Linked DNA regions of Homo sapiens. The protein of the gene in region 6 interacts with the protein of the main gene of each other region in a pairwise test. Each region holds a gene or a part of one and is shown on either strand. Other genes may lie near its edges. The genes, in order: ATPAF2, MORN3, CAMTA2, NCK2, SNX4, MAGEA6 and XRCC4.

The links.
Region 1: the proteins of MAGEA6 (region 6) and ATPAF2 interact in binary tests that used the Homo sapiens proteins (3 or more experiments, as listed by UniProt).
Region 2: the proteins of MAGEA6 (region 6) and MORN3 interact in binary tests that used the Homo sapiens proteins (3 or more experiments, as listed by UniProt).
Region 3: the proteins of MAGEA6 (region 6) and CAMTA2 interact in binary tests that used the Homo sapiens proteins (3 or more experiments, as listed by UniProt).
Region 4: the proteins of MAGEA6 (region 6) and NCK2 interact in binary tests that used the Homo sapiens proteins (3 or more experiments, as listed by UniProt).
Region 5: the proteins of MAGEA6 (region 6) and SNX4 interact in binary tests that used the Homo sapiens proteins (3 or more experiments, as listed by UniProt).
Region 7: the proteins of MAGEA6 (region 6) and XRCC4 interact in binary tests that used the Homo sapiens proteins (3 or more experiments, as listed by UniProt).

The regions. Positions count from the first base shown.
Region 1 is NC_000017.11:18,017,228-18,020,258, reverse strand, and holds the end of ATPAF2 (ATP synthase mitochondrial F1 complex assembly factor 2), read left to right. Parts: intron 1-1,572; coding exon 1,573-1,710; 3' UTR 1,711-2,238; downstream 2,239-3,031. UniProt on the Homo sapiens protein: Plays a role in the assembly of the F1 component of the mitochondrial ATP synthase (ATPase).
Region 2 is NC_000012.12:121,652,655-121,656,861, forward strand, and holds part of MORN3 (MORN repeat-containing protein 3), read right to left. Parts: intron 1,780-4,207; coding exon 1,620-1,779; intron 606-1,619; coding exon 421-605; intron 155-420; coding exon 80-154; 3' UTR 74-79; intron 1-73. UniProt on the Homo sapiens protein: Assembles a suppression complex (suppresome) by tethering SIRT1 and MDM2 to regulate composite modifications of p53/TP53.
Region 3 is NC_000017.11:4,977,162-4,981,368, forward strand, and holds part of CAMTA2 (calmodulin-binding transcription activator 2), read right to left. Parts: intron 4,199-4,207; coding exon 4,064-4,198; intron 3,461-4,063; coding exon 2,523-3,460; intron 1,470-2,522; coding exon 1,343-1,469; intron 32-1,342; coding exon 1-31. UniProt on the Homo sapiens protein: Transcription activator. May act as tumor suppressor.
Region 4 is NC_000002.12:105,747,723-105,751,929, forward strand, and holds part of NCK2 (cytoplasmic protein NCK2), read left to right. Parts: intron 1-4,207. UniProt on the Homo sapiens protein: Adapter protein which associates with tyrosine-phosphorylated growth factor receptors or their cellular substrates. Maintains low levels of EIF2S1 phosphorylation by promoting its dephosphorylation by PP1.
Region 5 is NC_000003.12:125,453,701-125,457,907, forward strand, and holds part of SNX4 (sorting nexin-4), read right to left. Parts: intron 3,666-4,207; coding exon 3,566-3,665; intron 256-3,565; coding exon 110-255; intron 1-109. UniProt on the Homo sapiens protein: Involved in the regulation of endocytosis and in several stages of intracellular trafficking. Plays a role in recycling endocytosed transferrin receptor and prevent its degradation.
Region 6 is NC_000023.11:152,766,461-152,771,202, forward strand, and holds the start of MAGEA6 (melanoma-associated antigen 6), read right to left. Parts: upstream 3,230-4,742; 5' UTR 3,194-3,229; intron 1,466-3,193; exon of another isoform or gene 1,402-1,465; 5' UTR 1,336-1,401; intron 1,256-1,335; 5' UTR 1,191-1,255; coding exon 246-1,190; 3' UTR 1-245. UniProt on the Homo sapiens protein: Activator of ubiquitin ligase activity of RING-type zinc finger-containing E3 ubiquitin-protein ligases that acts as a repressor of autophagy. May enhance ubiquitin ligase activity of TRIM28 and stimulate p53/TP53 ubiquitination by TRIM28.
Region 7 is NC_000005.10:83,075,562-83,080,488, reverse strand, and holds the start of XRCC4 (DNA repair protein XRCC4), read right to left. Parts: upstream 2,943-4,927; 5' UTR 2,874-2,942; exon of another isoform or gene 2,827-2,873; intron 1-2,826. Other genes in the region: TMEM167A (protein kish-A precursor), read left to right, coding at 3,166-3,168.

The DNA.
Region 1 (3,031 bases), on a different chromosome or scaffold from region 6:
GAATTAAGGTTTTGCCACAGTATGGTTTGCATTTTTTAACTCTGAAAATTATAGCCATCTTTGCAGTCTTTTTATTGTTATTCCACCAACCTCAGAAGGTTAATTGCTATTATGAATTGGTCCCTAATATGGTAAAAACAAACAAACAAAAAAACACAAAACTTTTTGTGATGTATTTCCCTAGTTCTTGTAGTCTTCTGCTCAGAAAAATGCCAGGGAAAAAACTATTTTTGTATAACAAAGGAGGCCCGCTACTATTCTCTGGATGTCAGAACTGATTACATAGGAAGGGGGTGACTTGTAGGGCTGGTGGGAAGCCAGTCTGGGCTCTGCTTCTGACTATGGGACCCAAGCCAGGCCATCATTCTCTGAACTTTGGTTTCGATCCTCTACAAACAGAGGAATAACCTGAATTATGTATGTGATGGTATACAATGAAAGTATGGAATACTCTTCAGATGACATATTACAATTGTACAGTTTGGGACCAGGCAGCCCAGAAGTTCAAATAGCTTGTGTAGCATGGTGGATTCTGAGTTCCTGGATGAGCTGGGGCGGCCAGGCCAGGCCTCTTGGGCAACTAGCCAGGGAGGAGCCAGCAAGGTTTGGTTGGACTTACACTGTCTGGACAGCCACATCGTGTGTCTGAGCGTTCCTCCCTCTTGTTTTTAGAGCTCCAGACAGAGAATCTGCAACTTGTCCCCAGTGTGCAGAGCAGAGGCATCTGTAGTTCTGTGACTACCACAAGAGTCAGAGTTGAAGCCACTGCGTGGCCTTACTTGATTTAGTTATTCCACCCACATGGCGCTGGGGGGCACTTGTAGCCCAGCATGGCAAGGCAACTTGGAGAGGCTGTCCATTCACAGGCTTTCTGGGAGGAAGTGTAGGAGAAGGGATGGCACATAAGGCCTCCTCAAAGAAGTCACATGGGTGGTTCTGGTACCCAGCCTGCCCAGTGGTGGGTGGGCAGCCACTGGCCCTGGGCCTGGGCCTGGACTGCACTTCTTCCAGACCATCCATGCCACAGAGAGCACAGGTGCCTGCTCCGGCTCCCTGGGGGTGGGGTGGTGGGGTGTGTGTGTGTGTGTGTGTGTGTGTGTGTGTGTGTGTGGTGTTTTTGAGACAGGGTCTTGCTCTGTTGCCCAAGTGGGAGTGCAGCGGTGTGATCTTGGCTTACTGCAGCTTCAGCCTCCTGGGCTCAAAGCAGTCCTCCTACCTCAGTCTCTCAAATAGCTGGGACTACAGGTGCACCCCCACCACACCCAGCTAATTTTTAAACCTTTTTGTAGAGGCGAGGTTGCACCATATTTGCCCAGGCTGGTCTTGAACTCCTGGATTCAAGCAGTCTTCCTGCCTCGGTCTCCCAGAGTGCTGGGATTACAGGCGTGAGCCACCGTGTCTGGCGTACCTGGGTGTTCTTACCTGCCACCTCCCCCTAGGCATGTCTCATGTGTTTTGGCAAGATACAAACCTGTTGCCCTCAGCCAACCTATTGGAATGGAACGTGGCTTTGGTCAGGAGGCAGCCAGGCACTGGCCACTCACCCAGCAACTTGTCTTGTCCTTCCCTCAGATCCAGAAGTGGGGCAACATTGAGTGGGCCCATGACTATGAGCTGCAGGAGCTGCGGGCCCGCACCGCCGCCGGCACCCTCTTCATCCATCTCTGCTCCGAGAGCACCACAGTCAAGCACAAGCTCCTGAAGGAGTGAGGCCTGGGCAGAGCACACTCAGCAGGATAGAGGCAGTGCAGCCACAGCTCCCCCGGCCTTCAGGGCTCCCCAGCCTGTGGGGCTGGCTTCCTTGGCTTTTGGGGACTCGGCCTCAGCGTCACCCTGAGATTCCCCCCGAGACACAGTGCGCTAGTACGGCTGTCCGGAGGTCAGCCTGATTTCAACCCAGGTGCCCCTGGCCTGGCCAGCAGTGAATGTAGGAGATGAATTGTGCAAGTGACTTTCTCTCGACTCTGATTTTATTAAATATTTCTCCACCCTGGAAATGTGCTGAGCCCTGTTTTCACGTATGCCTCTGCACTTCTCCATTCTTCCTGTTTTGTCTAGGTTCCAGAGGGTTAAACAGCTTATCTCCCATGGCGTGTTTGGATATCTGCTGCCTGTGGTCAGGAACCTTGCACTGGGGAAACAATCATGTAATCCACAGACAACTCTATTTGTGTTCTTCAGCCTCAGCCTGAAGGCTTTTTTTTGGCTGGCTTTTAATCAAACAATCTTTTGAAACAATTGTGGTCTAAGCTGGTTGTTTCTATTTGTTCCTACTGTTCTAAAACAAATGATTTACTCTAGAAAGTAGAAAATAGAAGTTGTTTCTGGGCTAAAAGCCTGGACAGGCTTGACAAGGTCACCTGATGTGCATGTTTCCGCTCATCTCCCACCCAGGAGTCCTAAGGGTCCTCCTGACATAGCCACCTCTAGTGTCCCAGGAGGCAGGCGCTACTTTCTGGTGTCAGGCCAGTAAGAGGGCAGGGGGGAAGAGTGGTTCTCAGGCAGACAGGCTCTCTCAGCCCTGTGTCCTTGCCAGCCTGAGTAAGGTAATGGCATCAACCCTGCTCACAGGGCACTGATCGCATGCTGGGTGCCTCTCCACGCTTCCCATGCACTGTCTCCCTGAACTGTTCCTCGAAGGCACTGTGAGGTACTGTCACAGATGACACCAGGGCTGCGGGGGTGACATGGTGGAGCTGGGATGCCCTGCCTGCACTCTGCTCTTCTGGAGGGTCCTCAGGTCCTTGTGGCTAACCTCAGCCTTGGTGGGCAGGCCCAGGCCCCAGCACTGTGGTGGGAGCTGCAGCCTCTCCTCCTGCTTCCCTGCCCCTCAGCACCCAGAGCAGAGAAGGTCTTAGCCCACACCGGCCTCCTTTTGCCTGTGGCTGGCAGCCTGCCTAGGCATGGCAGGGGAAACGGCAGGGGCACGTGTCTGACTTTATGCCACAGCCAAGAATCTAGCTGATGGCAGTGCCCTTGGGAGTTGCTCTGTCAGCTGGCCTGGGACCGGCTGTTCATCTCAAACTCTTTC
Region 2 (4,207 bases), on a different chromosome or scaffold from region 6:
GATCTGTGCATTGTTCTGGGCCCTGGAGCAGCCTCAGCCACATCAGAACTTGGCAGGTGTGCCCACCCCTCACCTGGCATCAATCTCCTTCCTCTGTCTTCCTGAACATGGCCAAGGCCTCCGCCAGCACACCATCAGGGTCTAGGATTTTGACCTGGAGGGAAATACCAAGAAGTTGGTTTGGAGAGCATGGAGGACCCAGGCTGCCAGCCTTGACTGGCGCTGCCTGCCGTGTGGGGTGCTGCCAGCCTCATCAGGAGCCACCTCCCTTGCTAGGGATGCCCTGACTGAAAACAAAACCTTGTCTGTTCCCTGTCTGGGCTTGGCTGGGCCTGGCAGATCTGGCCTGGGCATGGCTGGGGATGCTGGCTTCTGTCTCTGTCTGGGTGTGGCCACAGGGCCCTGGTGAGGGCTGCCCACCTCAGGAATGGGGAACTGAGTGGGCTCAGGGGCCTCGTCACGGCCAAAGTCGATCATCGTCCCGCATTTGGCCATATTGTCCACCCAGAAGCCTTCAAACAGCTGGCCGTGGTCCAGATGGAAGAAACGCCCCGCCCCGTTCTTCATGCCTCTCTCCCAGCAGCCCTCGTAGCGGTTCCCGTTCTCTGGGGGAAAGGACAGGGAGGTGTGGTGCAGGGTACACCAAACTAAGCTAGACCCCCAGGGGTCGCTCTTCCAGAGCTCAGTGCAAATCCTAACACATTGGGAGGCCAAGATGGGAGGCTCATAAGCCCAGGAGATCAAGACCAGCCTGAGCAACATAGTGAGACCACATCTCTGCAAAAAAAAAAATTTTTTTAATTAGCTGGGCATAGTGGTGTGCACCTATAGTCCCAGCTACTCTGGAGGCTGAGGTGGGAGGATGGCTTGAGCTCAAGAAGTTGAGGCTGCAGTGAGCTGAGATTGCCCCACAGCACTCCAGCCTGAGTGACAACCTCCGCCTCCCGAGTTCAAGTGATTCTCCTGCCTCAGCCTCCTGAGTAGCTGGGATTACAGGTGTATACCACCACATGCAGCTACTTTTTGTATTTTTAGTAGAGACAGGGTTTCTCCACGTTGGCCAGGCTGATCTCAAACTCCTGACCTCATGATCCGCCCGCCTCTGCCTCCCAAAGTGCTGGGATTACAGGCATGAGCCACTGCGCCTGGCTTTTTTTTTAAAAATTGAGATATAAGTTCATATAACATAAGTTGGCCATTTTGAAGTGTATAGTTCAGTGGCATTTAGTACATTCACAATGCTGTGCAACCATTACCTCTATCTAGTTTCAAAACGTTTTAATCACCCGAAAAGGAAACCCTGTGCCCATTAAGCAGCCATTCCCCACACCCACTAATGTCACCACCCCCATAGTCCTAGGCAACCATTAGTCTACTTTCTGTCTCTGTGGAGGTGCGTGTCCTAAAAATTTCATATAAATAGCATCATATATATGTGACCTTTTGTGACTGAGGGGAGAGATAGGGTGCTCTTCCTCTCTTGTCCCACATTGACACAAGGGTCAGTGTGGGACAAGAGTGTGGGGTGTGGCCTGTCTCTGTGGGACCAAATGGGCGTGGCCAGCTCGCTGCCGGGGGCGTGGTCGGGTGGGCGGGGCCGGCGGGGGTGGGGCACTCACTCAGGCGCAGCATGCCCTCCCCGTTGGGCTTGTCGTTCTCCCACTGTCCCTCGTAGATGTCGCCGTTGCTGTAATACATGCGGCCCCACCCGCTGCGCTGGCTGCCACACCAGTCACCCTCATAATACTCCTTGGGTCCGAAAAACTGGATCCCATAACCCTGAAAGTACGAAGATGCTACTACTCAGGGCGCCCCCCAACACCACCAGGAAAGCCCACCGTCTTCCCAGGCACCCCTAGAGCCACACACCCCAGCTTCTTCCTTCTTCCTCAGCCCTACGTCCAAGCGGAGGGTCGTGTCTTAGCGGAGTATCCTGTCTTTTTTGTTTGTTTGTTTGTTTTTAGACAGAGATCCACTCTGTCACCCAGGCTGGAGTGCAGTGATGTGATCTCGGCTCACTGTAACCTCCGTCCCCCGGGTTCAAGTGATTCTCCTGCCTCAGCCTCCCGAGAAGCTGGGATTACAAACACGCATCACCACGCCCTGCTAATTTTTGTATTTTTAGGAGAGACAGGGTTTCACCATGTTGGCCAGGCTGGTCTTGAACTCCTGACTTCAAGTGATCCGCCCGCCTCAGCCTCCCAAAGTGCTGGGATTACAGGTGTGAGCCATAGTGCCCACCGATAATGTCTTGAAGGATCTCCCCATGCTCTGTTTCTCTCTGTCCCTCTGCTGGCGCCTCCATGCAGCCAGTCATTAAACTCCCTCCTTACTGACCCACCCTCTCCTCTCTCATCCCCACCACACCATGCGCCATGCAGCCCCTACAGCGCCGGAGGACTCTTTAAATCGCCCATCTAGGCTGGGCGCTGTGGCTCACCGGCTCACTTTAGGAGGCTGAGGTGGGTGGATCACTTGAGGTCAGGAGTTTGAGACCAGCCTGGCCAACATGGTGAAACCCCATCTCTACCAAAAATACAAAAAATTAGCTGGGCGTGATGGCGGCGCCTGTGATCCCAGTTACTGGGGAGGCTGAGGCAGGAGAATCACTTGAACCTGGGAGATGGAGGTTGCAGTGAGCTGAGAATGCACGGTAGCCTAGGTGACAGGGTGAGACGCTATCTCAAAAAAAAAAAAAATCGCCCATCTGATCATGCTCGCCCCCCTCCCACTCTTATTTTGACCCAGAAAAATGAACATAAACACCATACTTAGCCTGGCGTGGTGGCTTACGCCTATAATCCCAGCACTTTGGGAGGCCGAGGCAGATGGATCACCTGAGGTCAGGAGTTTTAGACCAGCCTGACCAACGTGGCAAAACCCTGTCTCTATTAAAAATATAAAAAATTAGCTGAGTGTGGTGGTGGGCACCTGTAATACTAGCTACTTGGGAGGCTGAGGCAGAAGAATTGCTTGAACCCAGGAGTCGGAGGTTGCAGTGAGCCCAGATCGTGCCATTGCACTCCCACCTGGGCAACAGAGCAAGACTGTCTCAAAAAACAAACAAACAAACAAACAAAAAACACCACACTTAGGCTGGGCGCTGTGGCTCACGCTTGTAATCCCAGCACTTTGGGAGGCCAAGGCAGGCGGATCACAAGGTCAGGAGATCGAGACCATCCTGGCTAACATGGTGAAAACCCGTCTCTACTAAAAATACAAAAAAATTAGCTGGGTGTGGTGGTGGGTGCCCGTAGTCCCAGCTACTCGGGAGGCTGAGGCAGGAGAAGGCCGTGAACCAGGAGGCGGAGCTTGCAGTGAGCCAAGATCGCGCCACTGTACTCCAGCCTGGGCAACAGAGAAAGACTCCGTCTCAAAAAACAAAAAACACCACACTTAGTGTCCAACCACAGGGAAACAAGGTCTGTTTGCAGATCACACCCGAGGAGGTTGGGTTGAGAAGCCAAGTCTACTCCTCAAAATCCTGATTTCCCACATATCCCTGAGGGCCCCCGCAACTCTTCTCCTCACTCCTGTCCCAGGGCAGACACACTCTGCTGTTTTACATCTCGTTCCCTTTGCTATTTTTTTGCCTCCCATCTTTCTCCCTTTTTTTTCTTCCTGGCTAACTCCTAGCATCTTTTAGTGTCACCTCCTACAGGAAGCCTGCCCTGAATTCCCTCTTTTTGAGACAAGTCTTGCTCTGTTGTCCAGGCTGGAGTGTAGTGGCACCACCATAGCTCACTATAACCTCAGCCTCCTGAGATCAAGCAATCCTCCTGCCTCAGCCTTTTGAAAAGTTGGGACTACAGATGTGCACCACAACATCTAGCTAATTATTATTATTATATAGTTTTATTTATTTATTTATTTATTTTGAGATGGAGTCTCACTCTGTTGCCCAGGCTGAAGTGCAGTGGCGTGATCTCGGTTCACTGCCACCTCTGCCTCCTGGCTTCAAGCGATTCTAATGTCTCCGTCTCCCTAGCTGGGACTACAGGTACACACCACTATGCCCGGCTAATTTTTTTTGTGTTTTTTATTTAGTAGAGACGGGGGTTTCACCATGTTGGCCAGGCTAGTCTCGAACTCCTGACCTCAAGTGATACACCCCTGTCTGCCTCCCAAATTGCTGGGATTACAGGCGTGAGCCATTGTGCTTAGCCTTCTGTCCTGAATTCTCTAGGCTGGGCTTGATGACCTTCCT
Region 3 (4,207 bases), on a different chromosome or scaffold from region 6:
ACCTGCAAAGACACCAGCCCTACCTCATGGGCTGGAGAGGGTAGGATCAGCGAGAAGGGCTCTCTTTCCCTGGCTCCTTCTCTGGCTACCTGTGTCAGCCACAGACAATTATTCCATAGTTATTTCCCCTACTGCCCTGCTGTGGGCCAAGAGGCCCCTGGCTTCAGTGGCCTTGGCACTAACTGGGAAGGGAGTCCATTTGTTTGAGAACTTAATACGTACTATGGGCCAGAGATCCCTTGGATTCTAGACCCTGTAGTTGAAGATATTTGTTATTCAGCAAGAAGGTTTGGAAACTGAGGGTCAAGAGACTAGTTATGAACAATTTGATGTTGGAAAATCCTCTTGATCCCCGGATCAGAGTCTGGAAGTTATGACCCTGTTACTGAGATGGAGGAAAGGGGAGCTAGCCGCTCATGAACAGTGTCCAGTGGCCATAAGCATGGAACCAGCAGGCCCTGATCCTAAGACCAGGTGCTGAGACTTTTTCTCCCAGTCCCCAGATTCTCTGGTCTCATCCCCTTTCCTTACACACATGCTGGATGCTGCTGTAGAGACTGGGGGAGAACACACTCGTAGACAGCAAAGCTGCCAACCTGTCACTTTGGTGGTCCTTGAGGTCCCCTAGTAAGGCTGATTTTTGAGTGTAGGGTAAGGGCAAAGCTGGTGGCAAAAGGGCAGAGATGAACCTTGGCAATGAAGTCTAGACCAGTGCTGTCCAATAGAACATTTCTGCAGTGACAAGAATGTTCTATATCGTCACTATCCAATAGGGTAACACGAGCCATGTGTGGCTACTGAACACTTGAAACATGGTCAGTGAGACTGGGGAAGTGAATTTTAAGTATTCTTTAACTTTAATTAATAGGCACATGTGGCTAATGGCTACCATACTGGACAGCACAGTTCTAAAAGCCAATGTCCTTCAGTCCCAAGACTGGTTAGAGGAAACCCACATTTCTTCTTTCTCATTCCCCCTGGATTGGAGTTGGAGACTCTGGCTCTAAGCCAGAAAGCCTGGACAGACATTAGAAATCCCTTTGGTCAATGCCTAACCTTACAGGAGAGGAGGCCAAGGACCTCAGGAAGGATCAGACTCATCTGAGGTCACTGGTTAGCTAAGGAGTAGACTTCTTGGACCAGAACCTCGATCTTCTGACACCTAAGTCTGGGCTCTTCTGCCTGCTGGGAGAGCTTGGGGCTCAACCTCAGGACTGGATGAAGTCCTTGTGCTCTCAAAACAACCCATTTGTTCCCAGTGCTTTCTGGAAGCCTGGAGGTCCTGATCTGTCCTAACTGCCCACATGTCAGTCCCTCCCCCTACGGTTCCCAATCCTCATACCGGGACAGTAGCAGCGTAAGACACCAGGCTGGACAAGTGAGGCTGGCACTGCGATGTGATCAAAGACACAGGAGTAATGCTCGGCGGCTTCGGTCCAAGGACCTGTGATGAGCACCTTGACCCCACCCTGCAGACAGAAGTCAGAGACCATGTGACTGGAGTTGGGCGTTCATCCCCTCACTCATTCATTTATTCAGACCCTTACAGGGTATCTACTATATGGCAGGTCCTGTGCTAGAGTCTGGGGGTCCAGGGATAGACAGGACCCAGTGGGGTGAGGTCAGTGAGTCTATCTCTCCCCAACATTCCTGCCAAGTGGTTGCCTGGTCTCTACCTGAATCTGCCAGTAGCTGGGAATTCAGGGCCTCCCCCAAAGCTACCACAGAGCTGTCACCAGAAGGAAGTTCTGTTCTTGGGCTAATTCACCCCCACTGTACTTCCTCCTTTTCCTCTCAAAGGCAGCATAAAACAGAACTTCTCCACTGCTGAAGACAGTCTTTCAGCTACTCAAAGTCTGCAATCACATCCCTGATGTTTCTTTTCTTCTCCAGGCTGCACAGCCCCAATTCCCTACCCCTGAAAACAGTCAGGAAGGGAATGAGGTCCTAGGAGACTCCAGAAACCATGCTAACACATGGAAGGGAGAGGAACAGAAAAAAGGTTAAGTTGCTGAGGACTCTGGAAACAGGAAAGCAGCTTCACTCTACATAAAAAAAGAGATTGGCGGCTGGGCACGGTGGCTCACACCTGTAATCCCAGCACTTTGGGAGGCCGAGGCAGGCAATCACCTGAGGTCAGAAGTTTGAGACCATCCTGGCCAACATGGTGAAACCCCATCTCTACTAAAAATACAAAAATTAGCCGGGCGTGGTGGCGGTCACCTGTAATCCCAGCTACTCAGGAGGCTGAGGCAGGAGAATCGTTTGAACCCGGGAGGCGGAGGTTGCAGTGAGCCAAGATTGTGCCATTGCACTCCAGCCTGGGCAACAAGAGCGAAACTGTCTCAAAAAAAAAAAAAAAAAAAAAGAGAGAGATTAGGTAGAGGACTAAGAAGCCTAAGAAGCCATGAAAACTGAGGGAAACTAGGTCACAGACCACGGGGTAAGAGTTAATACAATTTGTTTTGGGGAGTCAGAAGACAAATAGGAGGGAGGAGGGAGGAGGTAAGCCTGAGTCTCACCTCTGGGTAGGACCACTCTGGGGAGAAGTCTGTGATGGTGCTAAGAGCAGGAGACAGCTGGGGGGTCGGAGCAGGGATGCTTGGAGCTTCGTCACTGATGAGTTCTCCCATAAGGTCTGGGAATGATGAAAGACTGAAGGGCTCCAGTTCACTGGCCCCAACAGGTCCTCCAAACAAGGCCTCTCCTCTTCCTACCCTGCTTGACGGCTCCAAGGGGGCAGGTGAGGGTGGGGGTGAGGGAGGGGGTGAAGGTATGGGTGGGGCAGCCCCGTGACCCTTGAGCTCCTCCCCACTGTCATCATCTTGGATGAAGAAGCAGTTTCCTCTTCTCCCACCTGCTACTGACTGTGGTGGGGGACCCCGAGCAGCTGCCTGGGGCTCCAGGGCAGCAGCAGGCTCTAGGGCAGAACAGGGGGTATGAGCGGCCTCTGCCTCGGGGAAGTCTGGGCTTACTCCCTGCCCCCCTCCATATGTCTGGCCCCTCTGGGGGCTGTTGAGAAAACGATCAGGGTCAAAGGCAGGACTGGGAGGAGCTGGTGGGGCAGAAGGCTCAGTGCCTACAACCACTGCCAAACTCATGGAAGGCCTAGGATCAGCCTGTGGAGCCAAGTGCCTGGTGGGCGTCAAGCCTCCAGCCCGCTGCTCCAGTCCTGTCAGGAGGAGGATAGCAGTGCCTCCTCTTGAAGAACCCCCTCGAGAAGTGGGAGGGCTAGGTCTGATTTCTAGGGGCTCTGCAAAACCTGATGAGGAGGAAGAAGAGGAAGAAGATGGGGAGGTGTGTGCCTTGGGGAGCTCTGGGGGAAGTGGGGCTATCAGTGGAGGAGGCTCTGGGGGGTGAGCGTGGGGGATAGAGGTCAGGGTTAAAGCTCGGGGCTCCACTTTGGGAGAGATGATGCGGTGTTTCGTGCTGCTGCATTTGTGGGTAAGGCTCCCAGAACCTGGAGTGGAGAGGAGTAGGAGGGAGAGGAGATAAGACACATCATTCCGCACCTTCTCTACCTTGAGGCCCTTAAAAGTATTTCCTGGGACGTCCCTATAAACCAGAGGTGTAATACTGATTGTAGCCACTGGGAGGCATCAGAAATGTCTGTTCTCTACCCCTACCCTTTATTCCCCCTCCCCCTCTCCATTTCCCCTCAAAACAAGCAGGACCAGAGGAACGCTCCAGAGAACTGAGGGCTTGGGAGAGTAGCTAAAAGCAAAAGTTAAAGGCATAGGAAAAGGACAAAAGAACAGAACCAAGGGGGTGCCAACTAGGAGGAAGGCTAAGGCTGGGTGTCACTGGTGGTGCTGAGGGGACAGGAATTGCTGAAGGTAGAAGACAGGAAGGGCAGAGGCTGCCATGACAGCTGAGTGCAAGGCTGATTCCGAGCCAGTGTGCACCCAGATGGGAACGTCTGTTCATCTGGCCCATCTTTCTGGGACATGCAAAAGACTTGCAAATCAGCATGCAAATCCCATCAAGATGGATATCCCCCTGGCTTGCGTAAGAGCAGTGTGGCTAGGTGGGAAGACAGCCAAAAGGTCAGGGAGTAACTTACCAAGCCCCCCACTGCAGAGACAGGCGTGGGTTCGGGGAGCAGGCTTGGTTGGGTGGGTGTCCAAAATCTGCTGCACCAGGTGTTCTACAGAGAACTCTTCTGTTCCATTCCCGCAGCTCCACTTGATGCCATGAACTAGAGAAG
Region 4 (4,207 bases), on a different chromosome or scaffold from region 6:
CACTTCCAAATGGTTTCTGTTTCCTAAAATGAGTGATGGAAATACTTCACGGCACGTTTTCAAAGGGCCTAAGCTAAAATGTGATTTCGTGTATCTTGTTCCATGCCTGAGTTAAGGCAACTCAGAAGAAGGTCGTGACGGCCTTTTAACGGGCTATCAAAAGTGTGCAGCTAAAGCAAAAACAGTTTTGCATTTCTTTAGGCCATTTAGTAGCACAATTAAAAAATTAGACTCTTTTCTTTTCCTGCATTTTCCTTTGAACATTTCCCAAAGTATGTTTATTTCTAAAGGTAAATGAACGTTAGCAAGTATTACCTCTGCCCAGTGACACACATCCACATGTGTACTGGCACATACATTCCTACCTCAAGAATCTTAGTCCTTGAAACTGTGGAAATGAAAGTTATTTTGATTGAGGTAGCAGTGTCACAGTGATGTCATACGGTGTCACTGTCCCTGACCAGCCTCTGTGTTCCCTCTCAACTCCTTGGCTCAGTCTCCTCCGTGTCCTGAGTTCTTACTCATCCCAAGGGTCGTCTCTTACTTCTTTTCTTCCCCACATCTTATCAACTCCAAACTAGAGGGGATGGCATCATCTTTAAACTTCCACAGCACTTTCTTTGTGTCCCTGATTTGTCATCTGTGACATTCTTTCCTGCAGTTGTTTTTTTTCTTTTTTTAAGGCAGGGTTTCACCCTGTCACCCAGGCTGGAGTACAGTAGCATGATCACAGCTCACTGCATCCTCGAGCTTCTGGGTTCAGGCAATCTTCCCACCTCAGGCAATCTTCCCACCTCAGCCTCCGAGTAGCTGGGACTACGGGTGTGCACCACCATGCTCAGTGAATTTTTTTATTTTTATTTTTATTTTTATTTTGTAGAGACAGGGTCTTGCTGCTTTGCCAAGGCTGGTCTCAAACTCCTGGGCTCAAGTGAGCCTCCTGCCTTGACCTCCAAAAGTACTGGGATTACAGGCCAGAGCCACCATACCCTGCCCTATGGTTTTTTTGCCTTCATCTTTTCTTTACTAGATTCTGAACCGCTTGGGGGCAGACTGGTCTTGCCACTTATACACAATGAGTGTGCAACAAATACTTATTGAATATGTGAATAATGAGTGCCCAGCCTGTTAATATTGGGGCTCTAGCCTCCCACTGAGATTCAAGTGGTAAGAGACCTCCAGCATTCTTGTAAATCTCAGAACTTCTGTCTACTGTGGAAGGCTTTGACCTCAGGATGTCCAGACAATGGGAGAATTTGGTCTGTTGGCCTCTCTATTTGGCAAATTTTCTGTCATGTGAGTCATTTGTAGTCCTGAAGCTACATTTAAAAACAACAACAGCAACAACAACAACAAAAAAACAAAGCCAACCCCATACTCAACTGTATTACCTGGTGGGCTGGCTGAATGGTTTACTTTTGTAGGTTAGTCTGTTCCTATCAACCTGAATTCAAAACGCTGGGCAGACCGTTTGTGATCCTGGCCTGGTAAGTTAGTTATTTGTGTCACCCCTTCTTTCTACTGTTGTATTGGTAATGTTTTTAAGAGAAGAAGCTTCAAGTGCACTCAGAATTTTAAGTATTGCAGTTGCTTCTTTTGAGACAATTTTGGAAGCTGGGGTGCTTACGTTGCCAAATTGTTAGTGAAGACCGAAAATGCCATGATGAGAGAATGACATGTACTAATGCATGCACGCTCATTCATTGTTTGCAAAGTCCTCTTCACATACACCATCATATTTAATAGTCGAATAACATGGTGCACTTGGTTCTGGCCCTCATTTCTAGGTAGGAGACTGGGGATGACAGAGCTTGAATTTAGGTTAAGTCCTTCTGCAGGCCATACATGAGGAACACCAACGTGTTGCTGGGTAGAGTTGTTTTTTTGTGAGGCAGTTTACAGAACACAGTGTCCTTGGGTATCTGCCTTTGCCGTGTCGCAGCTGTGTGTAGATATTGGTGGAGCAGATTCTGGATGTGAGTTGACTGAGGTTGAGCGGTGTGAGGGGAGGCCGGCAGGAGCAATGTCAGTCTCTCTTGTCCCCACATCCTGGTTATGGGCCAGGGTTACCCTGGAAAGCCTCCTCAAGTTCAGAAAGCTTATTCCTGTTTAGTGCGTGTATTAGTCAGCTCCAGCTGCCTTAAGAGAATAACACACAGAGGCCGGGCGCAGTGGCTCACGGCTGTAATCCCAGCTACTCGGGAGGCTGAGTCACGCGAATTGCTTGAACCCAGGAGGCGGAGGTTGCAGTGAGCCAAGATCACACCACTGCACTCCTGGGTGACAGCGTGAGACCCTGTCTCAAAAGCAAACAAACACACACACACACACACACACACACACACAAAACAACAACAACAGAATGGGTGGCTAAAGCTGCAGACATTTATTTTCTCACAGTTCTGGAGGCTGGAAGTCCATGACCCCGGGGCCGGCAGGGCTGGTTTCTGGTGAGTGTCTCTTCCTGGCTCGTCTTCTTGTGTCCTCACTCACGTAGCCTTCCTTCTGTGAGTGCACTGAGAGAGAGGTCTGGTGTTTCTTCCTCTTATAAGAACATCTGTCCTGTTGGATGAGGGCCCCACCCTTATGGTGACCTTTTTTAACCTTATTTATGACCTTTTTTAACCTTAATTGCCTCCTGAAGCGTCCTGTCTCCAAATATAGTCACTTAGGGGTTAGGGCTTTACCATATGAATTTAGGGTGGACAATTCAGCCACTCCCAGTGTGTCTGTCTAGGTTCCACAACAGGGCTGATGCTTTTAGGAAGACCTGGTGCTCCCATCATCCAGATCTGGGATCTCTGTTTATTTGGGGACACCTACCAGGGATGGTTAGAGTAGTCACAAGTAAGGAGGGAACGTCAGCTCTTTATATATTGGTTGTAGCACCCCATAACAGGGAACAAGCCTTGGTGCTGGCCTTCCAAAGGCTGGAAAGGTTTTAAGTAGAGTGATTGAAGAGAGAGAAAAATCTTGACTTGATTTCATTTATGGAAACTTCTCTTCAACTTAGGTAGGTAGACACTTATTTGGGGGTTGGTTTGTCTTTAATTGAGACCATGATAAAATATCAGTGATATGCAAAGGAAAGTTTTTTCTGAACCCTGGATGAAGAGAGCAAAGCAAGAGGTGGGGCCAATGGCAGCCAGGGTGGAGAGGCCGTCTCCTCTGAGCCTGCCATCTCTGTGATCGTGCAGTCTTTGCCACATGAGCAAACATCCCTTAGCAGAATGTGCATGACGGTGGTGAGGTGCACCCTGAGCGTGGCTGGAATGTTTCTGACCTAGGCCATTTTGCCTTGTTCAGACATAAGGCAGGGGCAATGCCTGCATGACTGACCTCCCTCTAGCTCCAGATCTGTATGTTCATTGATGCTTTGTTTGCTCATTCATTCACATTCATATGAATTATCCAAGTTCTTAGTGGTCATTTCCACCATCCCAAACCATTTGCAGCTTCTCCTGCAACCTGCCCGCCTTCTCAGTTATATTCCCCATCACCGACTCACTCGGTTATCCTTGAATTCTCCCTCAGCTCCCAACTAGTTATCAACCCCTATTGATTCTACCTCCAAAAGATCTAACATCTCAGCCCTGCTGTCCTTTTTCTGTTTCCCCTGGACATCAAAACCACTTTTTAACCATTCCTGCCAATCCATCCCAGGGTGACTGCACCCTGACAGTCAGGTCTGGCCATGACCTGCACACGGTGGCTCTCCATCGTACTTGGGTCAGTGACTCAAGTCCCCAGCATGGCAGTCATGGGCTTGCACGACTGGGCTGCCTCTCTGTTTCTCCCAGCATCTAAATATCCCCTTCCCCATATACACACATGCTGAGCTACAAGTCATCTGTGGCCACCCACTGATGGTTTGCTAATTGTGATAACAAAACTAAGTTTATAATCAGTTTGTTTTTAAAGACTCTCTCCACTGGGACTGGTTCAGGGTTCTCCTGTGCAGTAATGGCAGGGCTACCCCACTACAGCTTTGCATGGAACTGAGCATGGGCCCAGCTCTCTGTCATGGGAGGAGAAGAGACTAACTGCAGAAAATGGTGCGTATGTGTGTTTTAATATGGACTGTCTCCCTGCAAATGCCATTTGAACTGATGGATTGTCAAGAGCAGTGCTGACCCCTTGAAATACAATGTGAACCACAAATGCAAGCCCCAGATGTAATCATAATGTTCTGGTAGCCACATTAAAA
Region 5 (4,207 bases), on a different chromosome or scaffold from region 6:
GGATGCCAATGAAGCTGGGAATTGTTACCAAAATAAATAAATAAATAAATAAAATAATCTACCATATAGTCTACAAGCCTAGCTTACTTAAACATCGCAGCATCTTTACCTGCCTTCCAGATTTTTAGACTTTAGCTGTTGTTCTCCTTCATTTATTTGTTCTTCTAGCACCTTTATTCTGGCTTCTCTCTGCTCTGGAGTTTCTTGACCAAAGAGCTTGGTAGTCATTCCCTTCAAAGAGAATGTTCTCACAGTCTAAAAGGAAACAGAAACAGATGAATGGATAAACAAAATGCGGCATACACATACACATACAATGGAACATTATTCAGCCTTTAAAAGGAATCAAATCTGATATATGCTACAACATGGATAAACCTGCAGGACATTATGCTAAGTGAAATAAGACAGATACAAAAAGACAAATACTGTATGATTCCACTTATATGAGACACCAGTGTTTACACTGTATTAGGTATTAATAATCTAGAGATAATTTAAAGCAGGGGGTCCCCAACCCCAGAGCCACGGAGTGATACCAGTCCATGGCCTGTTTGGAACCAGGCTGCATAGCAGGAGGCAAGCGACCACCTGAGCTCTGCCTCCTGTCAGATCAGCAGCAGAGGCATTAGATTCTCTTAGGAGCACGAACCCTATTGTGAACTGCGCATGTGAGGGATCCAGGTTGTGTGTTCCTTGTGAAAATCTAATGCCTGAGATGATCTGAAATGAAACAGTTTCATCCCGAAATCATCCTCAGCACCCCCTGCCCTGGTCCATGGAAAAACTGTCTTCCACAAAACAGGTCCCTAGTGCCAAAAAGGTTGGCGACTGCTGATTTAAAGTATACAAAAGGATATGCACAGGTTACATGCAAATACTACACCATTTTATAGAAGGGACTTAAGCATCTGAGGATTTTGGTATCCCAGGGATCCTTAAACCAATCTCACTGAAGATACTGAGGGATGACTGCACTACTGAACTATATACTTAAAAATGGACAAGATGGTACATTTTATGTTATATATATTTCACTACACACACAAAGGAAATAGAAAACATTTGCCATATTTCCCCTAAGTCAGACAAAACCACCATAAGCTTCACAACCAGGGATCTCTTATATGAGTTTTTATTTATTTTTACAGAGTCATAGCCAAGAATCCTAATAGAATTTCTAACACTGAAATAATATGGAGTAGTCAAAAAGAAGACACTTCTAACTGAATTTCTTTTTTTTTTTGAAATGGGGTCTTGCTCTGTTGCCCAGGCTAGAATGTAATGGCACAATCATGGCTCACTGCAGCCTCAACCTCCTGGGCTCAAGTGATCCTCCCACCTCTGCCTCCCAAGTGGCTGGGACCACAGGTGCATGCCACCACACCCAGCTAATTTTTAAATTTTTGGTAAAGACAGGGTCTAGCTATATTAATCCACACTGGTCTCAAATTCCTGGGCTCAAGCAATTCTGGGTTTACGCCTCTGCTGCTAAAGGTGTCGGGATTGCCATTGTAAGCTACCATACCCGGCTTGAATTTCATAATCAAATGGAAAACTTCCACGTGAAATATTAGACGTTATTTCTTACTCTGTATGAATGATATTTTAAAAATTACTTTATGTTATAAAAAAAGTCGATAAATTCACTAGGCAACTATGGAAATAAACCAAACTAAAGAAGCATATTTAAAATCTGCATAACTCAACGCTCAAACTTGGGCATCTATTAATAAAACAGGATACCTAAATCCAAGCATGGGAAGGCAACCCCAAGCTTCACTGCTTTAACATTTCCTCACTCTCTGGAGTTTACTGAAGAAAACACTTTTCCCTTGACATGTAGGATAGAGAACCAAGCTCCCTGAAAATGGCCTGGGAACTTCTCCCACTGAGTTTTAAAAATAAACCAAGGGCCTAGTTTATACATGTGTCCTGGTCACAAGTCTTTCCCCACATATATCTGTGACTTTTCACAGATGTAGCCAGTGGGTAATCTCTGTGAAAAGCACTTTTAAAACTATAGTGCTTGGCCAGGCGCGCTGGCTCATGCCTATAATCCCAGCACTTTGGGTGGCCGAGGCGGGCGGATCACGAGGTCAGGAGATTCAGACCATCTTGGCTAACATGGTGAAACCCCGTCTGTACTAAAAGTGCAAAAAAAAAATTGGTCGGGCGTGGTGGCAGGCGCCTGTAGTCCCAGCTATTCAGGAGGCTGAGGCAGGAGAATGGTGTGAACCCAGGAGGTGGAGCTTGCAGTGAGCCACACTCTAACCTGGGCAACAGAGCGAAACTCGGTCTAAAAACAAACAAACAAACAAACAAAAACTACAGTGCTTATTAACTAAGTAGAGACATTGCTGCTGGTTTACTACTTTCAGAATGTGTGTTGCTCACCATGATGGCTGATTTATTGCAATGAAATAACTGGAGTAGAAAGCTGATTATAAAAATGATCCAAGACTAATGCAATCAGGTACAGAATTTTCCTCACAAGTACTCACTGTAAGCATTAAAGAATAAAGTACATCAAAAGCTCCCTGTTAGGCGAGATGCACTGGTTCTAAGTGGGTAAGGCTTTTCAAAGTCAACTAAAATTTCTGCAAAGTACCTTGCAAAGTTAAACCTGATAAAGGTCACTGCATGTTTTTTCACTTGGACTTAGAAACCAGATGATAGACTAGGCATGGTGGCTTACCCCTGTAATCCTAGCACTTTGGGAGGCGGAGGTGGGAGGATCACTTGAGTCCAGGAGTTTGAGACCACCCTGGTCAACATGATGAGACTATAAACAAAATTAGCCAGGCATGGGGGCACATGCCTGTGGTCCCAACTACTCAAGAGGCTGAGGCAGGAAGACCACTTGATCCCAGGAGTTTGAGGCTTCCATGAGCCCTGATCATACCACTGCACTCCAGCCTGGGAAACAGAACCAGACCTTGTCTCAAAAAATAAAAATTAATAAAAACAATTTTTTTGAGATGGAGTCTTGCTCTGTCACCCAGGCTGGAGTGCAGTGGCGTGACCTCGGGTCACTGCAACCTCCGATTCCCTGGTTCAAGCAATTCTTCTGCCTCACCTTCCCGAGTAGCTGGGACTACAGGCGTGAGGCACCACACCTGGCTAATTTTTGTATTTCTAGTAGAGATCGGGTTTCACCATGTTGGCCAGGCTAATCTCGAACTCCTGACCTCAGGTGATCCACTGGCCTTGGCCTCCCAAAGTGCTGGGATTACAGGTGTGAGCCACCGTGCCCAGCCCAATAATTTTTTTTTTTTTTAAAACGAAACCGGATGATACTGATTACACCAGAGAAATGTTGGCAAAATTTCTTATAATTCTATACAGTACATGGTTTTAATGGCTTACATCATTTTGTATCAAGATAATAATAAAAGAATTATAAAGTTACTCACAAATTATTCCCCTGTAAAAGGTTCAGCCGTCCTGAGTATTGTAACTGGAACTGATTCTACAGGAGTGAGTTACTCACTCAGAGTGAGTGCTTGTGAGGAACATTCCGTGTTGCTACAGTATCATCAGAGGCCAAAAGGAAAATACTCACCCCAGTTACCAGTTCCTCACACTGCTGCTTCTTGGATGCTAAGTCCTGAGCAGCCATCTCCAAGTCATACTGCATAAGTTCATGTTTCCTGCACACAGCCCTACAGATGAAAAAATGTGCTGCCATTTAACTTTTCCTTTAACATGTCAAACATTTTTTTCAAGGGTAGAGGAGAACCATTCACAATGTCTCGCTAGGGCAGAATGTGTGTGCCCAGAATTTTCAAGTTTAAAATGTAGTAGCCCAACATTAAAAATGGAATCTAATGGAATCTAGCAGAACCTAACCATAAAAACTTCATATATTCTTTTTTTTTTTTTTTTTTTTTTGAGACAGAGTTTTGCTCTTGTTGCCCAGGCTGGAGTGCAATGGCGCGATCTCGGCTCACTGCAACCTCCGCCTCCCGGGTTCAAATGATTCTCCTGCCTCAGCTTCCCTAGTAGATGGGATTACAGGCATGCGCCACCACACCCAGCTAATTTTGTATTTTTAGTAGAGATGGGAATTCTCCATATTGGCCAGGCTGGTCTCAAACTGCTGACCTGAGGTGACCCACCCACTTCGGCCTCCCAAAGTACTGGGATTACAGGCATGAGCCACCTGTACCCGGCCAAAAACGTCATATATTCTTAACACAAAAAA
Region 6 (4,742 bases):
TGCTGACGCTCATTCAACCATCCGTTAAAAGGAACATTTGAACAACTCCAACAGGAAACAAAGAATAATCTCAAAGTCATCCAACAGAACAGAAACCCACTACTAAGAATGCTGACTGCTCGCTTCAAAGAGTGAAGAATGGGCCTCACGTCACAGGAGGCAGTGGAAACTAAGGGATGGGGCCCCGGAAGGTGCACTGGCCCAAACCCCCTCCCACTGGCCCTGGCTGCAACTCGTGCTCAGACTCACTCTTCCCCCTCTCTCAAAGCCCACTCATGCAGGAGTGGGTAGGAAATGCGAGGTCCTCCACTGATCTTTACCATATGGTGCAGGACTTTCACATAGCTGGTTTCAATGAGGGCCCTTGGACCCCACAGGAACTCATAGCATGCAGGATCACTGCCGGGGACCTGCCGGTACTCCAGGTAGTTTTCCTGCACGAAATATTGGGTGAGCAGCTTCTTGGGATCCCCGAAGATACTGTCTTCCCTCCCCTCAAACACCTCTAACACACTCAGCTCCTCCCAGATTTTCTCCTCAGGGGCACAGTCGCCCTCTTTTGCGATTATGGCCAGGATGATTATCAGGAAGCCTGTCTTGGGCATGATCTGATTGTCACCCAGCAGGCCATCGTAGGAGAGGCCCAGGCAGGTGGCAAAGATGTACACGTGGCCGATGGGGTCCACTTCCATCAGCTCGATGCCAAAGACCAGCTGCAAGGAATCGGAAGCTTTGCTGAAGATCACAGGAAAGAAGTACTGCCAATTTCCGACGACACTCCCCAGCATTTCTGCCTTTGTGACCGGCTCCCTGGCTCGATACTTGAGGAGCAGAAAATGAACCAACTTGGCCACCTTCCTACTGAGTGCTGCTTGGAACTCAGACTCCAGGTCAGGGAAGGTGCTTGGCCCCTCCTCTTCTTGGTTGCTGGAGTCCTCATAGGATTGGCTCCAGAGAGGGTAGTTCATGGTAGTGGGGAGGCTGGAGGCTCCCTGAGGACTCTGGGGAGGATCTGGTGACTCGGCAGCAGGCACCTCCCCCAGGGTGACTTCAACTAGAGTAGAAGAGGAGGAGGCAGCCTCCTGCTCCTCAGTAGCAGGAGCCTGCGCACCCACCAGGCCCAGGGCCTCTCCTCGGGCCTCAAGGCCTTCTTCAGGCTTGCAGTGCTGACTCCTCTGCTCAAGAGGCATGATGACTCTGGTCAGGGCAACAGGCGGGAGTGTGGGCAGGAGCTGGGCAATGGAGACCCACTGGCCTGGGGAGAGAGGGAGCATGTGAGAGACCTCAGCTGAGTACTGAATGGAACCTTGGAGGCTCTAACAAAGGCTTACTTACAGATCTTCTCCTTCAGTGCTCCTCCGGGGGCCTCTGTTCCTCCACGTCAGCCTGTCCCCTCAGAACCTGAAGGAGGAAGTGAGAGGGCACCTCAGGGTACATCCGGCCAGCACATGCTGAGGCTGCAGGACTGAAAGTATTGAGGGTGAGGCCAGGCGCTCTGGAGTCCATGTGTTCTGGGGCAGGTGGGGCCCTTGGTTTGAATCCAAGGCAAACCTTCACCGTTGGCACTATCTGAGCCCCCTCTACTCTGTGACCTGAGGACACTGCCTCAGACCAAGTCCTCACTGCCTTGTTCCTGGAGCTCCTGATTCCTGGGAGAGGAATCCACGGGCCCCCAATGTGCAGACAGCAAACGCAGCCACGGATTCCCAGAACTGTCAGGAGGGTTGGCCAGACTCTGTGAGGTCCCCACTCTACTGGGGTGGAGGATCCCCTCTGTGCTCACTCAGGGCCCTCACCTTTCTCCTTATAGGACCTAATCCCTCCCTTCTGCTGGCCTGAGAATCTCTCATGTCAAGAACTCACATACCTGATATGGTACAGAAAAACATGAGGGGACCCACATCTGGCCATACATTCCCAGGTCCTCCCGGAAAGGACAACGAGAGATGTCCAAATTTATTGAAGTCCATGTACCCTGGGTGAGGAGACTGCTTGGTCCTCACCTCCACTCCTAGTAGGGTCTGAGAGCCTCCCTCTACTGCCCTGAGTGCAGTCCCCTCAGACCAAGGCTTCCCCTTCCCTGACATCAGTGATCCTAGGATAATGGAGGGACCTCAGCTGACAGCCCTGCCCAGGCTCTCTGAGGTAACAGCAGGAGCAGGGCAGATTTTTATGGGGCCCCCAGTCCGCATTCTGTCCCAGGGGTACCCTCAATCCTCCCTCAGTCTCTTCACCTGGATGCTTGGCAGATCCTAGGACCACTGCATCTGTCCACCACATAGGGGCCCCTTGGGGGTACACCTTGGGCCCTGCAGATCCTGGGATTCCTCCCTCTGCTGACCTGAAGTCCCACTCTTCAGACCACAGCCCTCAACTCTCTGGTCACCCTGAAGGCGCAATGAGCACAGAGCACATTTGGCCACTGTGCCCAGCATCCCCCAGCCCAAGGTTGCCACTGATCTGGACTCCAAGGTCCCCTCAGTCCTCCCTCTTCTTCCTCCCCATGACTCCTCGCAGGGCTGGGCCCCAACCCCCTGCTGAAGTGGGTCTGCATCCCTAGGATTCCCGTAGCCGAATGAAAAGGTGCCTCGGTTTGAGACAGGGGTACAGTGGGCCCCCTGTCCTGGCATGCTGGGTCCCCTCAGGACTCCACTGTCTTCCAGGAGGGCCTGGGCCCTTTCGCTGCCTCCCAACGGCCATACTCGCGATACCGAACCCCTTCCCTCCCTTAGCCGTAGATGTGAACCTCAGGACTCACGTGCCTGGCCGCCATTCCCGGAGCTTCCGTGACTTGATACCAGGGGCAAAGCCCGGATTCTGCCAGGATAGGGGTGGGGGTGGGGATGGGAATGGGGAATGGGGGATGGGGGTGGGGTTGGTGTTGGGGGACGGGAATGGTGGTGAGGGTGGTGGTTAGGCTGCCCTCAGTTCCCTCTCGGGGTCCTGACCTTGATTCCTGCCACAGCGTGGGCCCTGACCTCTTCTAACCAGCCCTGCCCTGGCCACATTAAGCTCTGTCCCCAGAGTTCCCCGTGGCTAAAGCGGCGGGGGTCGGCGGGGTGAGGTAGTGGCGACCCAGCCTGGAAGTCTTCCCCTGCGGGGTGGCCCAGGCCCGGCAGCAGAGGCAGCACTGGATTATTTGAGGCCCTCTGTCTGAGGTGAGGCCCGCCTCAGTCCTCCCTCAGCGTCTTACCTTGCCTCCTCACCGAGCCTGGGCCGGCTTCCCTCCGCCGACGTCAGGCCGTCGCTCGTTGCTCAGGGCGAGAATCTCGCGGTCTTCTGACCTCCAATGCGCAAGTCAGTGGCGTCACATCCTGGCAACGGTACTACCCTGGGTTCCGGGCAGGGGTGGAACTGGATTCTGCCTGGATGGGGATCGGATGGGGGTGGAGGTAAGCATGAAGATGGTGATGGGGCAAGGGGTAAGGATTGGGACGGGGGTCCTGAGGCTGTAGATCCTGGTGGGGTCGGGGGAGTTGGGGGTGGGTGGGCGGGGCCTTCGGTCATCCCTCAGGGTCCTGAAGTTGATGCCTGGCTGAGCCTGGACCGCCATCCTCTGCAGATTGCTTCTGCTCCCCTCAGACCAAGTCTCTGACTCTGAGTCCCCCTGAAGTGGCATTGGGGGAAGGGGTGTGGTCTGGGTGACATCACTGCCTGCGTTTACCAGGGCTGACAAGAGGGGCTGAGCTGGATTCTGTGGTCCCTCTATGGTGTGTGGGGTGGGGGGGCGGTGTGGACCCTCAGTCCTCACTCAGGAGGGTCGTTTTCGTCACCTCTGGCTGTTGGATGAAGTGATGGGCAGGAGATGCTCTGTTTCTGTCACCTGTGAGCATTTGCACAGCTGCACCCCTTGTAGAGAATGCCTGCGGGTCCCAGGCCAGGTGCTCCCTGCAGGGCGGGGCGGCAGCTCCCGCGGTTGTAGTGACCTCCTATTTCAGTCTTTGTGTTCTGTTGAAAGAATTTTTTTTTTTAAAAAATGTAATTCCTCTCCCACTATGGTGGTTTCAGGTTGTTATTAGCAGAACTCTGGAGTCATACTGCCTTAACCAACCAAATTTTCCTGGTGTCCTGCTATTACCTAGGGCTCTTGGCATCGTGTTTTCAGAGGCTGCCTCAGATTGTGCAAAGAAGTGAAGTGGAAAATTTCAAACTTTTATTCTACCCATTCTGTCATCTACCGTGTAGGCCGGCTACAAACCTCCCCAACATCCCTGCTGCTAACCCCCTCCAACCAACACTGCAAGTGTCAAACACAAGTACCAGCTCAACACAGCCTTGAGTCTCACCCTGGGCTTTCCCTGTTTTGTTGCTGATACTGGTTTTTTATTTACTGTTTCCATTCTGTAATTTTCCAGGTTTGATTTGGGAAGCAGAGCACAGCAGCCCAAATTTGTTGTAATGGCGGCGGCTACAGGTAAGGCACTAAATTGTAAATAATTTAAGCTGAGTTTACATTTTTACAGTGTTGTGCTCCCCATGAATGAATATATTATACTCCTCTATGTATTTCAAGGTTTTTTTTACCTGAATATGTCAGTATACTTCGACAGTTGTCTCTATAAAGACCTTATACATTTTTATTAGACTTCTTTTCAGGCAATTCATGAATTTTGTTGCTATTGCAAATGGCATATTGTCTATTAATTGTTGTAGTTAGTTATTGCTTTCGTGAGGTGAAGATTTTGATTTTGCTGTAGTAATCTGTTGCACACCTCGTTCTGAAGGCCGATGCACTTGAATAT
Region 7 (4,927 bases), on a different chromosome or scaffold from region 6:
AGTGGCACAATCTCGGCTCACTGCAGCCTCCACCTCCCGGGTTCAATTGATTCTCCTGCCTCAGCCTCCTGACTAGCTGGGACTACAGGCACATGCCACCACGCCTGGCTAATTTTTGTATATTAGTAGAGATGGGGTTTCACCATGTTGGCCAGGCTGGTCTCAAACTCCTGACCTCAAGTGATCTGCCCGCCTTGGTCTCCCAAAGTGCTGGAATTACAGGCATGAGCCACCGCACCCGGCTGGAATTTTCTACTTAATATTTTCAGACTGTGGTTGATCATGGGTAACTGAAACTGCAGAAATCAAAACCTCAGATAAGGAGGGACTACTGTATTTAGTGCCTAATATATGCAATTCAACCATTCCTCCATTATAATTCCTCCTCTCCAGGGACTTTTAATTTAGCAAAGACAAAGCCATGCACAGTAATAGCCAACACTTTCTGAGTGCTTACTGTATGCCAAACATTTGCCTAGATGATTTACTTGTAATAACTCATGTAATCCTCATAACACTGAGGACACCTGTGCACTGGCGCCACAGAAAACTACAAATATCCACTATTTTTACATACGATTTTAATATACCCATGAAACCAAAGTTGGAAATATTCTTCCAGATGCAGGTGAGATAATACTTTTTGAACAGGCCAGACGTGGTGCGGTGGCCTACACCTGTAATCCCAGCACTTTGGGAGGCCGAGGCGGGAGGATCACTTGAGCCCAGGAGTTTGAGACCAGCCTAGGCAACATAGTGAGCCCTGTCTCTACAAAAAATAAAATAAAATTAGCCAAGTATGGTGGCATGCAACCATGGTCCCGGTTACTGGGGATACTGAGGGAGGAGGATAGATCGCTTCTGCCCTGGAGGTTGAGGCTGCAGTGAGTCATGATTGTGCCACTGCACTCCACCCTGGGCAACAGAGCAAGATCCTGTCTCAAAAATAAAAATAAATAATAATTTTTGAACAAAGGAATAACACAGACAGATTTTATTTCTAGTAAGGAAAGGATCCAAGATGGTTTTAAATGAGGATTCACTGCAAAGCTGCCAGAAAGATTTTAGAAATTGTGATATAATCTGAAAACCAAAAAGTAGGGGGTTTATGTAAGACAATGGAGCTAAACTACCACCTCCCAAAAAAAACTCACCACGTCAGATTAACTTTGATGTTTTACATAAATGCAATAAACATTATACATATTTGTTCAGCCTCATTTATTGGCATATGTGTTTCTCTATAGATAACTTAAAAACTGGCAATGCCGTTCTTTACTGTTTTGAAGCTCAGGTACATAAGAAGTCATAGCCTAAAATTAATTAAAATATATAGATATAGCAAATCAATTGTGATCTCTAACAAGTTAAGCTTTCTGATGCTTTTCACAGGTAGCCTGAAGCAGAGCTTCATACAGAAGTATTACCTTTATATGTAACAAAGATCAAGACAATCTTCACATGAAACCAAGGGCAGTTATGTCTACAGACACATTTACTGCCCTAAAAGCCAAGCTCGATAAATTGCACAACATAATTTCCATAACTAAACCAGGTTTGTTTAATTTGAATGGCAAGACCTAAAAGGTATAATATAAAGGAATTACAAGACAGAACATTAAAAGACTTTTTTTATCCTTAGGTGGAGAGTACTGTATCTTTTAAATACCTTTCTTATTCCCCTCTCCCCCAACCTTATTAAATTCCTTAAAGGAACAGACCATCTTTGTTCCTATGCTGCAATCTGAAGATCCATGAATAAAGCAGGCACCCAGTAAATACTTGCTAATTTGTGTATTTGACCAACTCTTGACAATTCAATATAACAGACTCAAATATCAAGTTAGTTATAGTTTAAAACAAAACCTTTGTGTGCCCTAGTGAACAATGTAAACACAAATAGCAGAATCCCAAATCTTCTAATCATTGTGTTGCCCTAAATACAAAAGGGTCTCATAGGCCGAATACAGTTCATAAACCAAAATCTCACGTGAGTTACCTTCTCTCTTTCTCTCTATCCACCTTCTAAGTCCATAAAAAATTGAAAACATTCTGAAAAGAACTCTCTCCTGCCTGAGAAAAAATACACCACACATTTAGAACCAAAAGCTTGCCATAAGGGGGCAAAGAGTGAAAAACTCTCATTTCTAATACTTTATTAGAATTCCAAGAACTACGCAAATTCAAACATGTCAAAGCGCCTGTTTCTCCATCGATAAAATGCAGAAAGAAAAACGTGTGTGTGTAGTAGAACCTCACCTAATGGGATAATTAAAATCAGAAAAAGCTAAATACTACTACTGATTAAAAGTTGCCTTGTCATTTGTCTTGCCAGTTGATCTCTTTAAAGTACCTAATCAATCGCTGCAGTCCGCAAACGGCAGTTCCTTCCCATTGGTTACCACAGAAAGTTCTTTCCTGACCTCAAATTGCCTAGTACGTTTCAGCCTCGATGCCTGGTTGGAACCCACAGTTTACCAATATCTGGGGATTGAAAGGACAGGCCAGTGCTGGGGAAATGCTCAAACAGCCTACTCAACACTACCCTCTGGATTCAACCGTCCTCCCAATCCCACAACCAACACAGAGCATTTCAAAAGTGCTTCGCATTCCCAAGAATCCCTCAGATGCAAACGGAGAAACTGAAAAGGGGGTGAACAGGTCGCACCCTGAGGATAATGCCGAGAACCCTAGCATCCCCAAAAGCCCACAAGAGGAAGTCGCGGGAGCTCACAAATTGAGGGGGATTCTCGCATTGTGGAGTTCTAGGGGTAAGTAGCAGGGAACTTTTTTAAAAAGAAAGCAAAAAGATAAAAAGAACAGAACCTCAGATTTTTGTTATTTAAAGAGGCAGCCCCACTTCCGGATCCTACCTCTCCGTGACTCTACTTCCGGTATCTTCCAAAACGCCCGCTTTCACAGATCAAGGTTTTGCAACCAATGAGAGTATCAGCTACTTCCGCCGGCCTGCGGGACGTGATCTAAATCCCGCCTTTTCCGGTGGAGAGGAGCCTATCCTAGTGTCTTAACCGCCCGTCTTGGTAGGCGGTGCCGTGACAAGCCCAACCGGACGGCTGGAGAGGGCGAGAAGGGCAGACGGGACATGCAGCCTCTTCCGCCTGAGCCCCGGAAGGGTGATGTGGCTGCGGCATCGCCGGCCTCGCTATGGTAAGAAGTGGGGCTCCCAGGTCGCGGTTGATCTTCGAGAAGGGGTTGTGGATCTAGACTAGGGCTGGAGTTTGTGCGGCAGCCCGGGGTGTGTGGGCCCGGAGCTGAGAGGCCTTGGAGCCATGTGGTCCCTCCACGGCCAACCAGAGAGAATCAGGACGGACTGTCCGAGGAAGACTGCTGGGTCGGCAGCCCGCCCCTCATGCAAAGTCCGCTTTCCTACTTTGTTTAGGAAAAAAAAATGCGTTGGTGTGTTTTAACACGTTGGCTACGTAGATTATGTGTGGTCATTGACCCTTTGAAGCATTAGCGCTTCTCGAGTTTCCGCTTGTTTTGTTGCAACTCCTTATCTCGCCCTAGGGGCTTTACTCTGGTGTTATTGTTTGATTTTTGGGGGGAGTTTCTTTTGGCACCAAACTCCATACCTTCATTTTCATCTGTTTAGTCAGTAGCCTCTCAAGACCCTTCCACCTTCTTCTCTTAACTTTGAAAATGCTGCTTTACAAGCTATAGGTTTTAATAGTTAAGAGTTCTCTGCAAAGGTGGATTGCCCTTCTAGGAGCTTAATGTACTTATTGGAGTGGTGTCTAGCCTCAGGCCTTCCTCCTCTTTTACCTCCAGGTCCATGTGCCAAATGTTATGTATATTTCTGGACAAAGGATGCATGCCTGCAAATAGACCCAAAAACAACTATGACTCCAAAAAGCTTGAGTCTCCATGGTGAAAAATTATGAGCCTATGTTCACAGAAGTTGCTGCAGAATCCCATATAGCAATAATTCATTTTCTTCTCTGGACGAATTTACCACCTGGTGGGAAGATGGCAGTTGAGACTAGGAAGACTGCCACTCTTAATTCTTATACATCTTTCTAGAAACTGAAGTTGAATTCTTCTACTCGTAGTGCAAGTCAAAGATAACTCTTTTTATTATCTCACTGTCAGACTAGCTAAAAATAAGATGCATATACTGTGCTTAAGATCAACAGTATATAAACTATCTTGTCATGCTTGTTTTTCCAAAAGTAGCAAATGCTTTCATTTATTATCACGTCCTATGTACCAGGCTCTTTTCAAAAAATCAGTTTATAAGCATGGAAATATCAAGTTCACAGCAACTTCTGAATAGATGTTTACAAGTGAAAGAAGTGAAACATGAAGAGACTGACTTGCCTCGGATCACACCTAGTAGATTGTAAAGCCAGTACTCAAACTTATTTTAATGTCCAGGTCCCCGAAATCTTCATGCTGTTATCGATAGAAACACAACATAACTAAGGATGAAATAAGACTTAGTGATTTGTTTCTTATAAATATAAGTACATAAATTAGACATAGGTGGAAAACGGAAACAACTGGCAGGTGGTTTTTTATTCCTGTGAGCTTGGGATGTCAAAAGTACATTGTTTGCAGAGCTACGAAGTGAGGTTTCAAGAAGGCTAACTTAGCAGCTTAAGAAATGGATTAGTGTCTCAGTATCTTTGAGTTCGCATCTAAACTTAGTTTATTTGTGAGGTAACCCAATGGTAATGACTTAATAAACCTGAATTACTGTATTTTAATGATTTTTTTTTTTTTTGAGATGGAGTCTCCCTCTGTTGCCCAGGCTGGAGTGCAGTGGCATAATCTCAGCTCACTGCAACCTCTGCTTCCTGGGTTCAAGCAATTCTCCTGCCTCAGCCTCCCGAGTAGCTGGGACTACAGGCGTGCACAACCACGCCTGGCTAATTTTTGTATTTTTAGTAGAGACGAGGTTTCACCA